3 linked regions of the Homo sapiens genome follow. The protein of the gene in region 1 purifies or fractionates together with the protein of each later gene. This does not show direct contact. Each region holds a gene or a part of one and is shown on either strand. Other genes may lie near its edges.

Region 1 (3,109 bases):
GTTGCCCCCATTGTTCTTTGACTTTTAGCAAGAAATCCTATCTCTCCAGACACCAGAAGGCCCACCTCACAGAGCCGCCCAACTACTGCTTCCATTGCAGCAAGTCTTTCAGCTCATTTTCCAGGCTGGTCAGACACCAGCAGACCCACTGGAAGCAGAAGAGCTACCTTTGCCCTATCTGTGACCTCTCCTTTGGGGAGAAAGAGGGCCTTATGGATCACTGGAGGGGCTATAAAGGCAAGGACCTGTGCCAGAGCAGCCACCATAAATGCCGGGTGATCCTGGGCCAGTGGCTTGGCTTCTCTCATGATGTCCCCACTATGGCTGGGGAGGAATGGAAGCATGGAGGTGATCAATCTCCCCCCAGGATCCATACCCCCAGGAGAAGAGGCCTAAGAGAGAAGGCCTGCAAAGGAGACAAAACAAAGGAGGCAGTGAGCATCTTGAAACATAAATAAATGGCCTTTCTGACTGAGCTCTTTCTTTGTGTTTAGTTTTCCTGAGGACTGACCTCTGGGGTAATGAGGCTGGAGTAGAGGGAGACAGGTGCGTGGATAAGGAAGGAAATACATAAAAGACAAGGGGTTAGAAGTGTGCTTATGAAAACTTGTATTATTATTTTTTATTTATTTATTTATTTATTTATTTATTTATTTATTTATTTATTTTTGAGACAGAGTCTTACTCTGTCACTCCGGCTAGAGTGCAGTGGCACGATCTCAGCTCACTGCAACCTCTGCCTCCTGGGTTCAAGCGATTCTCCTGCCTCAGCCTCCGGAGTAGCTGGTATTATAGGTGCCCACCACTATGCTCAGTTAATTGTTTGTATTTTTAGTAGAGATGGGGTTTCACCATGTTGGCCAGGCTGGTCTTGAACTCCTGACCTCGTGATTCGCCCGCCTCGGCCTCCCAAAGTGCTGGGATTACAGGCGTGAGCCACCGCACCCGGCCAAAACTCGTATCTTTATTAATTAGCACCTAGCTTGTTTGTTTGTGTCTGACCATCAAGTAGTAGTTGTTGAATAAACAGTGGATACTCTGATAGATATGAAGATAGGAGAAAAGGATGAGAGGAAGGAAAGATTCTGAGACCTGTGGAAGATGTGTAAGTAGAAGGAAAACATTCTAAAGCAGGCATGTTGCCCAGCTTTCGTTTTTGCTTCCCCAGGTCCCTAGTAGGCTGCCAAGACAAGGAGGAGCTCTGGCTAGTATTCTGTAGGTTTCTCCCCATCTCCAGGTTTGGGTTGGGGCTACTCATATCCTCACTCTTCAGCTCACTCAGCTCTCTCTTCAATGTTTTGCACTCTTCCTCTTCCTTCCCTTCACATGCCTTTCAGTTTTGCGCAATCAGGGCTGGAGTCTTGGAAGAAACAACCACCATTTGCAAAGTTACCATACTGTAATTTTCAGTGAGGAGATTCCTGGCCTCCAGTTCATGGCAGAGACCATCCTGTGTTGCTCTCCAGTACAGGTGTCCTCTGATGGAGAGAGGGGCACCTGCCTGTCCTTAGCCAGAGAGGGCTTCCAGGTGGAAGACTGGAGAGAGAAATGGAAAGAAGGGTAATAAAAATGGGAAAATGAAGAGAAAAGGTAGATGACAGAAGAAGGGAAATCAATTCTACTTGGAATTCAGAGTGTTCCTGAAAGTGCAAATTGGAATGTCCCCATAGCAAAGATGCCAGTGAGTGTGCAACTTGATGGATGAGATGTCCCCAAGGACAAATCCCTGGGCAACCAGGCTCTCCTCCACCCCTGCCAAGATGTGACATCACTCAGAAGGGATTTCCTAGAAGAAGGAGAAAATAACTTGAAAAACGTATGTCAGTAGTTTGTATCATAAAACCATTGAACTAGGGAGAAGAAAAGCCCTTGGGGTCATCTTGTCTCCATTCCTGCCTCAATGGTTGATCTGAGAGGTGAGGCACTGGGCAGTTGCTGTGGAATGGGCAATGAGACCAGCTAGGGTTGGATTCCTGCTTAGGGGCAGTGAAGGAGGAATGGATCAGGTGGCAGATAGGAGTGCCTCCAGCTTCTCTGCCACCTGTAAATGTGTCTCTAACAGCTGGCTTCTTTGCCCTCTACCTCCCAGGAGGAGTCTTCCCTCCACCCAGGCTCTCCAGCTCCTCCTTTCCTCTGGGAATGTGATCCCTCAATAGCCCGCCTCTTCCTCTTGTTGCTTCTGTCTCCCTTTCCTGGCTTTTTATTCTCTGCTTATAACAGAGAGAAGAGAACTTACGTAGCTCTTCAAGGAATTGCCCTGAAAACAAAAAGAAACAAATATGTGATTAGTGGAAGATGAATAGCACCTTCCCCACATCCTCCCTATGGACATTTGGAGTGACCCACACTGCCCTTTCCACTGGGGGATCCCACAGATCCAGTAAGTGGTTCTCTTCACAGTTTCTCAGAAGAGCCTGGGGTTGGGCATGGGGACAGAGGAATAAGGAAATCCCAGCTCCCCTAATCTTGAGTCCTGGTTCTATTCTCTTTTGGCTTCCCATTCAGAGCTGACTTGGTCCCCCACTATTTGGTGGTCTTGCCTGCTGCCCAGCCACTGCACCTGCTAGTCTTCGATGTAGCCAGTTGTAGCAGATGATCAAGGCAACCAAGGGTCCAAGAACCGGCACAATTACAAACAGGGTTATCTTCCAGCAGGGCACCCTCAGAAAGTGGGGATCTGAATTGTTCACCAGAACAAACAGGGTTAACATGTGTTCCCCCTCATGCCCCACCCACCTGTCTTTTTTGGTTCCTTAACCTGGGGTCCTAGAACACCAAAGGACTCTGGGGACAAAATTCAGAAAGTCCATGAACTTGGATGAGAAAAGTACTGCCTCCTTATTTTCAATAACTGGATTTAACATTTTCTTTCATTAAAAATGTAACAACTGCCAGGTGTGGTGGCTCATGCCTGTAATCCCAACACTCTGGGAGTCCGAGACGGGTGGATCATGAGGCCAAGAGTTCAAGACCAGCCAGGCCAACATGGTGAAACCCCATCTCTACTAAAAATGTAAAAATTAGGTGGGCGTGGTGGCACATGCCTGTAATGCCAGCTACTCAGGAGGCTGAGGCAGGAGAATCGCTTGAACCTGGGAGGCGGAGGTTG
Region 2 (4,242 bases), on another chromosome or scaffold:
CACAGCCCCCGGCAGATGGGCTGGCTGCTGAGGCCATTTGACTCTTTGGGCCCACATGTGGCCAGACCTGATGGGACCCTAGAAGCAGCCTGTACCCAAAGCCAACTGTAGGAGCTGGGACACTCCACCTGTCTCTAGCCCTCTATCTGCATGGCTGCCAACATTCAAGGCTCCTTAAACCTTCCGGGGTCTCTTCCAGTCACTGCCCAGGTCCAACCCAAGTGTTTCCCCAGGAGTAGGGCTCCAGGACAGTCACAACCTCCAGATCAGGAGCACGGTTTGTGATAACGCAACCATGGCTTCTTCCCTGGCGGCATCGAGCTGTGGGCACTCCCTGAGCTGGGGAGTTGGGGTAGGGGTGAGATGGAACTGGAAAAGCAGAAGAGAGAGAGAGTGAAGCCCCTCCAACTACAGGTCCCTGCACCCCTGAGCTCCTGGCCAGCTAGGATGCCATTAGCAATGCACGGCCATTGAATTCCATCACTGCTTCCTATGTATTGACGCCATCCCTAAGTAGATTAGAAACTCAATGGTGGGACTGTGACTTGAAATTCTTTGGCACTCCAGCCCAGAGTGGCAGGTGGGCCCAAATGGCACTCTCCGCCCAGTACTTGGGTCACAGGCTGAGGGGTAATCCTCACCAACAGGAGCCCCCTAAAGCTCCTCCTGCCTGTGTGAATGGGGTGGGGGAGGGTGGCCAGACTGGGTCGGGGCGGGGCTCCTATCCTGCCTCCCACCAGGGCCTGGCTCCTCCTTCAGCTCTCCCTGGCCAGGCCAGGGAGGGAGGGCAGAGCAGGTGGGGAAATGGCTGGGAGGTGTAACTCGAGCCCAGGAGGAATTCCCTGCCCTTCCTCTATGCTTTTATTAAAGTAGGGCGGGGAAGGGCAAGCTTCCATCGGAAAAATCTCCCAGGCAGCCCGGAGAGGTGGGAAAGCCGCCGTGGGCCAGGGAGGGAGCACCAGCTGAGCTGCAAATAGAAACGGCGCTCAGGCCCGCAGCCCGGGCAGCCCAAGGGCACCAAGGCCTGAGCACCGTTCAGAAGCGGCTCCGGGGTGGTTCTTTCTCCCTACTCCCCGCCCAAGTCCTCTCCCCGCCTATCTGGGGCAGGGCGCAGGTCTTAGAAGTCGGGGAAGAGTGGACCCTGCTCTTGCTCTGGGGCAAGAAAGCTGGCGCCTTCGGTGTCCTCGCTCGGGAGACACCATGGAGCTGGGGCGCTGGCTGGACTCGGCTCTACGCCGGGATGTCGCGCCTGGTCACCCGCGGGACCCATCCAGAGCGGGGCCCCGGGAGGGACGCCAAGCGGGCTCCTAGCGAAGAGAGGCGCGGGGTCCACCCTCTCGAATCCAGGGCTTCGACGTAGGGGCGCTGTTGGGAGGAAGCGCTGTGGGAGGCAGGGTCCGTCCTTAGGACCCCGCCCGGGCGTGCCTAGGCTTCCTCGCAAAAGCGCAGAAAGTCGCCAAAGCGCCCCCGCAACCCGAGTCCGCTGCCTCAGCCGTTTGCACCCATCCCCCCGCCTCCATCCTGGCCCGCCGTGCGCGGCTCGGTATCACCCAGACGGGAGGCCACCTGGGCAGGAGCGCAGTTGCCCAGCCGCCCAGCTCTTGCTCCGCCTGTGGCTGTCCCCGAGAGCAGCCCCCTCCCCACTCGCAAAGAGCGCCACTGCGCGCCAGCCGGGCTCTCGAGGAATCGGCTGCCCTGGAGGGAAGGAAGGAGGGGAGGCAAGGGCTGGGGGCGGCGGAAGCGGCTCCCGGGACACAGGCTGAATGTAAGGGGGTCGGGGTGGGGGCTCAGTGCCCAGAACAGGGCTGTAGGAGTAGCGGGGAGGAGAGCGAGGCCCTGCGCCCTCAAGGGTTTGCGAAGAGGTGCGCTGCAGAGGGCGAGCTGGGGAGGGGCAGACTGCCAAGTCCGCTTGCTTCCCCGCCACGGCCCAGAACAGGGGGCGCGTCTCCGCTCCCTCCACCTCCAAGTCCCAGCCTGCGGACGTGGCGCCTCTCCCTCCAAGCCCCCAGCCCGCAGCCAAAGGGCAGGGCGGGGGTCTTACCTCGGCATGGACCTCCGCGTCTTCGGCCGCTACGCCAAGGCCCAGGCAGCCCAGAAGCACCAGGAGCAGCGGCAGCAGTCGCGGCCGCGCCGCCTCCTCCCGGTCGCCGAGGAGGCTGCCCGTCCAGCCCGGCCGTCCGGGCGCGCTCGGGTCGCTGCCCATGCTCTCGGCGCCCAGCCCAGCTCGGAACACTGCACGCCGGATCCTCGCACGCGCCTTGGAAACTTGCGACGCTCCCTGGCTCCTGGCCCGGCAGGCGCGCCGCGGACCTCGGGCTCCCGGTCCCCGCCGGAGCCGCCTAGGTCGCCTCGGCAAATTCCCAAGCCCGAGGAGAAGCGGGCAGGGCAGGTCCGGGAGCTCGGAACCAGCCGGCGGGAAAGGGGGCCGACCGGAGCTGCCCCCGGCGAGGTTCCGCAGCCTCGGCGCCCAGCGCCTGGGGCCCGGCTCCCGAGAGCAAGCGCAACTCCGGAGCCTTTGTCTGGCTCAGCGCTCCGGCCGCCCGGTCCCGCGGCGCTCCCTGCGCGCCCAGCTCCCTCTGTCCATGCCCGGGGCCGGGCGCTGCCCGGAGCGCGCGCCTCCTGCACGGGGATTCTGCTCGCCGCCGCGCCCGACCGGGCCCGGGTCCCCAAGCAGTCCCGGGAGGAGGCGCAGGGAGCCGACCCGAGAGAGCGAGCGAGAGAGCAAGCGAGCCAGCCAAGGAGCGGGCGCCCGACGTCCCCGGCGAGTTCAGCGCGGCTCCGGGCGCTCCCAGCCCTCCTCCCCGCGCGCCGCGGCCGCCGCGCTCTTAAAGGGCCAGTGTGCTCCCAATGCGCGGACCCGGGCGGGGACCGGGGGCGGTGCCCCAGCCGCAGGCTTCTCACAAGCAGGTGCGGGCGGCCGAGGCCCGACAGGTGGGCGGTCCGTTTACGCTTCCCAGACGGCAGGAAACCTCTCCAGCCCACCCCGCGTCACTCCCAACCCAGCGCCTAGGGGGCGGGGGTGACCTCCAACGCGACCCCCCGCGGAGGGAGGAGGCAGGGAAGGCGTGGTCTCCCCGCCTGGGAAGAATGAAGACTCCTCCTTCTCATACCTGGTGGGGGATACCGAGGCCTAGGCGGACGGGAAGGAGGTCTTAGGGGAGGGATCAAAGAGTCGTTTTAGGCTTAAATATAAATATATATGTATATATGGATATTTGTCAGCCTGAAACCTCTTTTCAAAAGCCGCAGGGTGTCTCTGGCCATTGAATAACTTTCCTCAGTAGCAAAGTGAGGGTTTTGTGCGCGTCGAGGGCGCGTTGCGGCGGACAAGGGGCAGGTTTAGGAGGGACACGGTTCAAGTTCCGCGTCCGCCCCTTAGCTGCCGCTTGCACGTGGGCAAATTAATCTCTCCGAGCCTCCATGTTCTTATCGGGAACGTGGGGCAAAGAGTTGGGGTGAGGGCGAGGTAAGACTTCCGGCTCCTGGCCTGGCGCAATAGGTGCCCAAGCACTTTGGCCACTGGCTGGTGCGAGTGAAGTGCGACAGTGCGGCCGGAGTCGGCGCGGGGCGGGTGGACACACCTCCCCGCGAAGCTTAACGAGCTGGATTTCATTCTATTCCGGAAGCAGCTTGAGGTCGGGGCGGGGTGGATGCAGGAGGCCAGAGCTGGGAGGCCCGGGTCGAAGGTCCACCGAGACCCGGGGACCAGGCCAAGGGCAGCCCTGGCGCGGCGGACTGGCCGGCGTGGTCAGTGGGTGAGGGTTGCAGGCAGGAGGGCGGAGACCGAAGATAAGCTGTTCCTTATCTTCAGACCCGGAAATGGAAGCCGTCCTCACCTGAGGGCGGTTTTCTCTAGAGCAGGCCCTCGGGGCACCCTAGCCGGCCTCACCTCCCGGAAACTGGAAATCAGGAGACCTGGCAGAGTGCCTTAGAGAGGGCGCGTTTGAACCCTCCTGGGATGTCCTTGGGGAAAGGAAGTCGGAGTTTAGAGAAAGGAACCGGGCGATTCTATCATTTCCACGGACTCACTTCTCTGTGGGATCCTTCATCTGGGAAGTTGGTTTCTAAATTCTCCACTTCGAAATTTGCTTTTGGGAAATGTGCAGTGGTCTTCAGACACGGACAACGGGGTTGTCCTTGTTTAACCGACCACGTCGCACTCTTTCATGATATTTAGTCCCGATTAGCCAATTTTAAAAAGTTTGGGGCTAGGTAAAGTGGCTCAAGCCTGTAATCCCAGCA
Region 3 (3,722 bases), on another chromosome or scaffold:
AATTAAATGTAAAAATGTACTACCTATATAAGGCTTCATCTAATAATAGCATTATATTATATTATATAATTTATAACTTATCATTATAACTTGTTTGTCACTTATCAGTAAATGAAAAATTATAGCATTGTTTTATACTTACCTCCCACTAAACTACATAGACCCAATAAAAGAAAAAAGATTTTTTTGAGGGGATGGATAAAAACAATGAGAATATCAACTAGAACTTAGTCTTTGAAATGATTATAAACAGAAAAATACCAAAATTTGCATTCATTTTTCATTTTAACTACCGGGCTTCAATATTTTTAAAATTATAAGTCATAATTGCAGACACACAAATGAAACCACCAGGTAGTCAAAAAGATACACTCAATTTCAGTAATATCTAACAGACGTATTGGAACAGCTGCCTATTGTAGAGAAAGAAATGGTTATGCAATGGAAAAATAATTAAATAAGAGAAGGGCTTTTCATGAACTAATGATATATAACTGTGGGCCACGAACTCAAGAATATGCCTAACTCAAGCCTCTTTTTTTGTGGCGGGGGAGGGTGGTGGGCGCAGACGGAGTTTTGCTCTGTCGCCCAGGCTGGAGTGCAGTTTGCGATCTTGGCTCACTGCAACCTCTGCCTCCTGGGTTCAAGCGATTCTTCTACCTCAGCCTCCTGAGTAGCTGGGATTACAGGTATTCCCCACCATACCCGGCTGATTTTTGTATCTTTTTGGAGAGGCGGGGTTTCGCCATGTTGGCCAGGCTGGTCTCGAACTCCTGGCCTCAGGTGACCCGCCCACCTCAGCCTCCCAAAGTGCTGGGATTACAGGCATGACCCACCACACCCTGCTCAAGCCTCTTTCTGATTTCAAACTGCAGGTTAAGACATTTCTACATTTTATACTTTTTCAAGAATCTACTTTTTTAAAAAAAAATATGAAATCTCTGGTGACATTACTTAGTACCTTGCATATGCAGGACAATATGCTAGATGCTACTACAAGATGGGTAAACTTATCCATTAAAAGTAGCCAGGCTGGGCACGGTGGCTCATGCCTGTAATCCCAGCACTTCGGAAGGCCAAGGCAGGGAAATTGCTTGAGGCCAGAAGTTCATAACCAGCCTGGGCAACACGGCAAAACTCCATCTCTACTAAAAATACAAAAATTAGCCAGGCATGGTAGTATGCACCTGTAGTCCCAGGAACTCGGTAGCCTGAGGCACAAGAATTGCTTGAACCTGGGAAGTGGAGGTTGCAGTGAGCTGAGATCCTACCATTGCACTCCTGCTTGGGCAACAAAGGACTCTGTCTCAAAAATAAAAAAATAAGAAATAAATTTTAAAAAATAAAGTATCAAACTTAGGGGAAAAAAGTAGTCAAAATCAAATATCTCTCCTGAAAAATGACTTTCCTTCTCAATTCTCAATTTGTGGCAGTGAAAATTTCGCTTCTGCTGTTATTACCTCTAAAACTCATGGAATAAGAAATCCTCAATTCAGTCAGACTGATGGAATTTGCAATCATGCAACATCAAACTTAAATTCCCTACCTCTGTAGGCCATCTGCAGACATTCAAGTAAAATTTAATTAAGAGGATACAAAACAAAAATTAAATTATTTTGGATTAATTGGAAGAGGAAATAAAAGAAATTCTCAAACACAGATATTTAAAAAGTTACATGAAAATAAATACTGTAAAAACCACAATGGGAATTTAACTTTCTTAACATTATGTTTAGATATTAAGTATTAATGATAATTTTATCCTTTATTTTCCATAAAGTTAAAAACATTTGTACCATGCTTTCCTTTTGATTAGAACTCTGATAAGCTGCAGTTGTTGCCCTAAGAAAACAGCAAGAAATAAAGCCAATCACTTCCTCTTCCTATGCCAAGATAAGACTCAGCTGCCAATGAAGTTAAATGGCTGGGGGCGGTGCCGGGGGAAACACTGGGTATGGGGAAAAAGATCAGAAGATAGAAAGTATCTTCTGCATCAGGTTGGTTAGAAACTCGGTTTATCTGCTCAAAAGAAGCTACATTTCAAATGTCTTATTAATTCTCTCAAACACACATAAACACAATGAAATAAAACATAACTAGTAGGAACAAGGTTTTCGGAGATAGGTGGCTGTTACTGGAAGATAAGATTATGACTCCAGAAAAGACAGAAAATGAAGACAGTGTTGCTAAGTCTTAAAGAACACATGAATAGAGACACAGAATTTCTACATATTTCTGTTACAGCAAGACTGATGTCATGGTACTTTGAGTTTTTCCTTTTAATCTTGCCTTATCACTTCTTTTGAATAGGAAACTGAGAATAGTTTGTACAGAGGAGGTGGGTATTTTTCCTCTCAAGGATTAGTGAGCAACAAGGGGGAAAAGAAACCAACTAGAGATCTACATAAAAAACAACATAATTTAGGTTGACAGGTTTAATTTTTTCTTTAGAGATTGTCTATTCTAAACATTAGATACATTGTTTCACAATCTTAACACTTTGTTCAATAAATATTCTATAAATTTGAGAATTACATGTACTAAAAACACAGTTCTATGATGTGTTAGTTGAGGGAAATAAGGGGAGGAAAACCAGAGAAAAAGAAGAAAAATAGAAAAGGTGAGGGAGAAATAAGGAGCAAATATTTATTGAGTGCCTCCATGTGTTAGGCATTTTACATACAAAATGAGACTGAATCCTCATAAAAACTTTAAGAGGTGGGTAGCATCATACCCATTACAAATGAGGAAATTGAATCTCTGACGGATTAAGTAATCAGGATCACGGGGGCTAATAAAGAGTAAAACCGGGATTCAAAATTAGATCTGTCATACTTCAACCCCCTTTTCATTGTTTCATAATGCTCAGCTTCTGCACTGAAGTGGAAGAGGTAGGGGAAGATGTATGCAGAAGAAGAGAAAGTGGTTGAGATGCGTGGGGAGGGAAAAAACACATGAGAGAACGAGACTCAACAGAGACAGAAAGGAGATGGGTGGTAGGAAAGAAAGGCAGAAAAGGAATGTGTGAGAAAGCAAAATACAGCAAGTTGCATACGAGGAGCTGCTAGAAGAGACACAGAGAAAAGTTTGAAATTCTGTTTAAAATACAGGTTTCAAGCAAATAAACAATTTTAACCTATCTATTGGAATATCTATTATCAGAGTAATTACTTTTGACAACTCAAAGGACTGTAACCCTTACATATTTTGAATATTGTTTCTCAACTTTGGCACTATTGAAATTTTGTGCCAGATAATACTTCGCTGTAGGGGACTATGGCATTATACGATGTTTACCAGCATTCCTGGCCTTTTCCTATTAGATGTCAGTACCACCTCCTTAGTTTCAGCAATAAAAAAATGTCCAGACATTGTCAAATGCCCCCTATGGACAAAAGGCCCCCAGTTGAGAACCACTGATTTAGAAGTTCCAGTCTGGATGATTTAAAAAAATGAACAAAAGATGCCTATCAAATGCAAAATTATTCCCTGAGTTACTCTAGTGACTGGATGTCCTTAGGAACAAGATGAGATTAAGTTAGGGCAGAATTCAACTAAGCTCATAGCACTTATTACAATATTGCTTGCAAACTGCTTTTAAAATACGTGAAAGGAAGTGAGTATAAACTAATATTTAGTTTTGAACTACACCATCTAAAGTAGGGCAGAAAATTTGTCAGACTGTTTTTCCATCATGTAATGTGCTTTTTGTATTTGTGAAA

Evidence for each region.
Region 2: the proteins of MOG (region 1) and MMP15 purify together in Homo sapiens (affinity purification with mass spectrometry; one large-scale study listed by BioGRID and IntAct). This does not show direct contact.
Region 3: the proteins of MOG (region 1) and FAM241A purify together in Homo sapiens (affinity purification with mass spectrometry; one large-scale study listed by BioGRID and IntAct). This does not show direct contact.

What each region holds. Positions count from the first base shown.
Region 1 is NC_000006.12:29,669,849-29,672,957, reverse strand, and holds the end of MOG (myelin-oligodendrocyte glycoprotein isoform alpha1 precursor), read right to left. Parts: intron 2,785-3,109; coding exon of another isoform or gene 2,737-2,784; intron 2,678-2,736; coding exon 2,561-2,677; intron 2,258-2,560; coding exon 2,237-2,257; coding exon of another isoform or gene 2,079-2,236; exon of another isoform or gene 1,787-2,078; coding exon 1,773-1,786; 3' UTR 1,537-1,772; coding exon of another isoform or gene 1,508-1,536; 3' UTR 593-1,507; downstream 1-592. Other genes in the region: ZFP57 (zinc finger protein 57 homolog), read left to right, coding at 1-458.
Region 2 is NC_000016.10:58,024,312-58,028,553, reverse strand, and holds the start of MMP15 (matrix metalloproteinase-15 preproprotein), read right to left. Parts: upstream 2,801-4,242; 5' UTR 2,204-2,800; coding exon 2,042-2,203; intron 1-2,041. UniProt on the Homo sapiens protein: Endopeptidase that degrades various components of the extracellular matrix. May activate progelatinase A.
Region 3 is NC_000004.12:112,151,876-112,155,597, reverse strand, and holds part of FAM241A (uncharacterized protein FAM241A), read right to left. Parts: intron 1-3,722.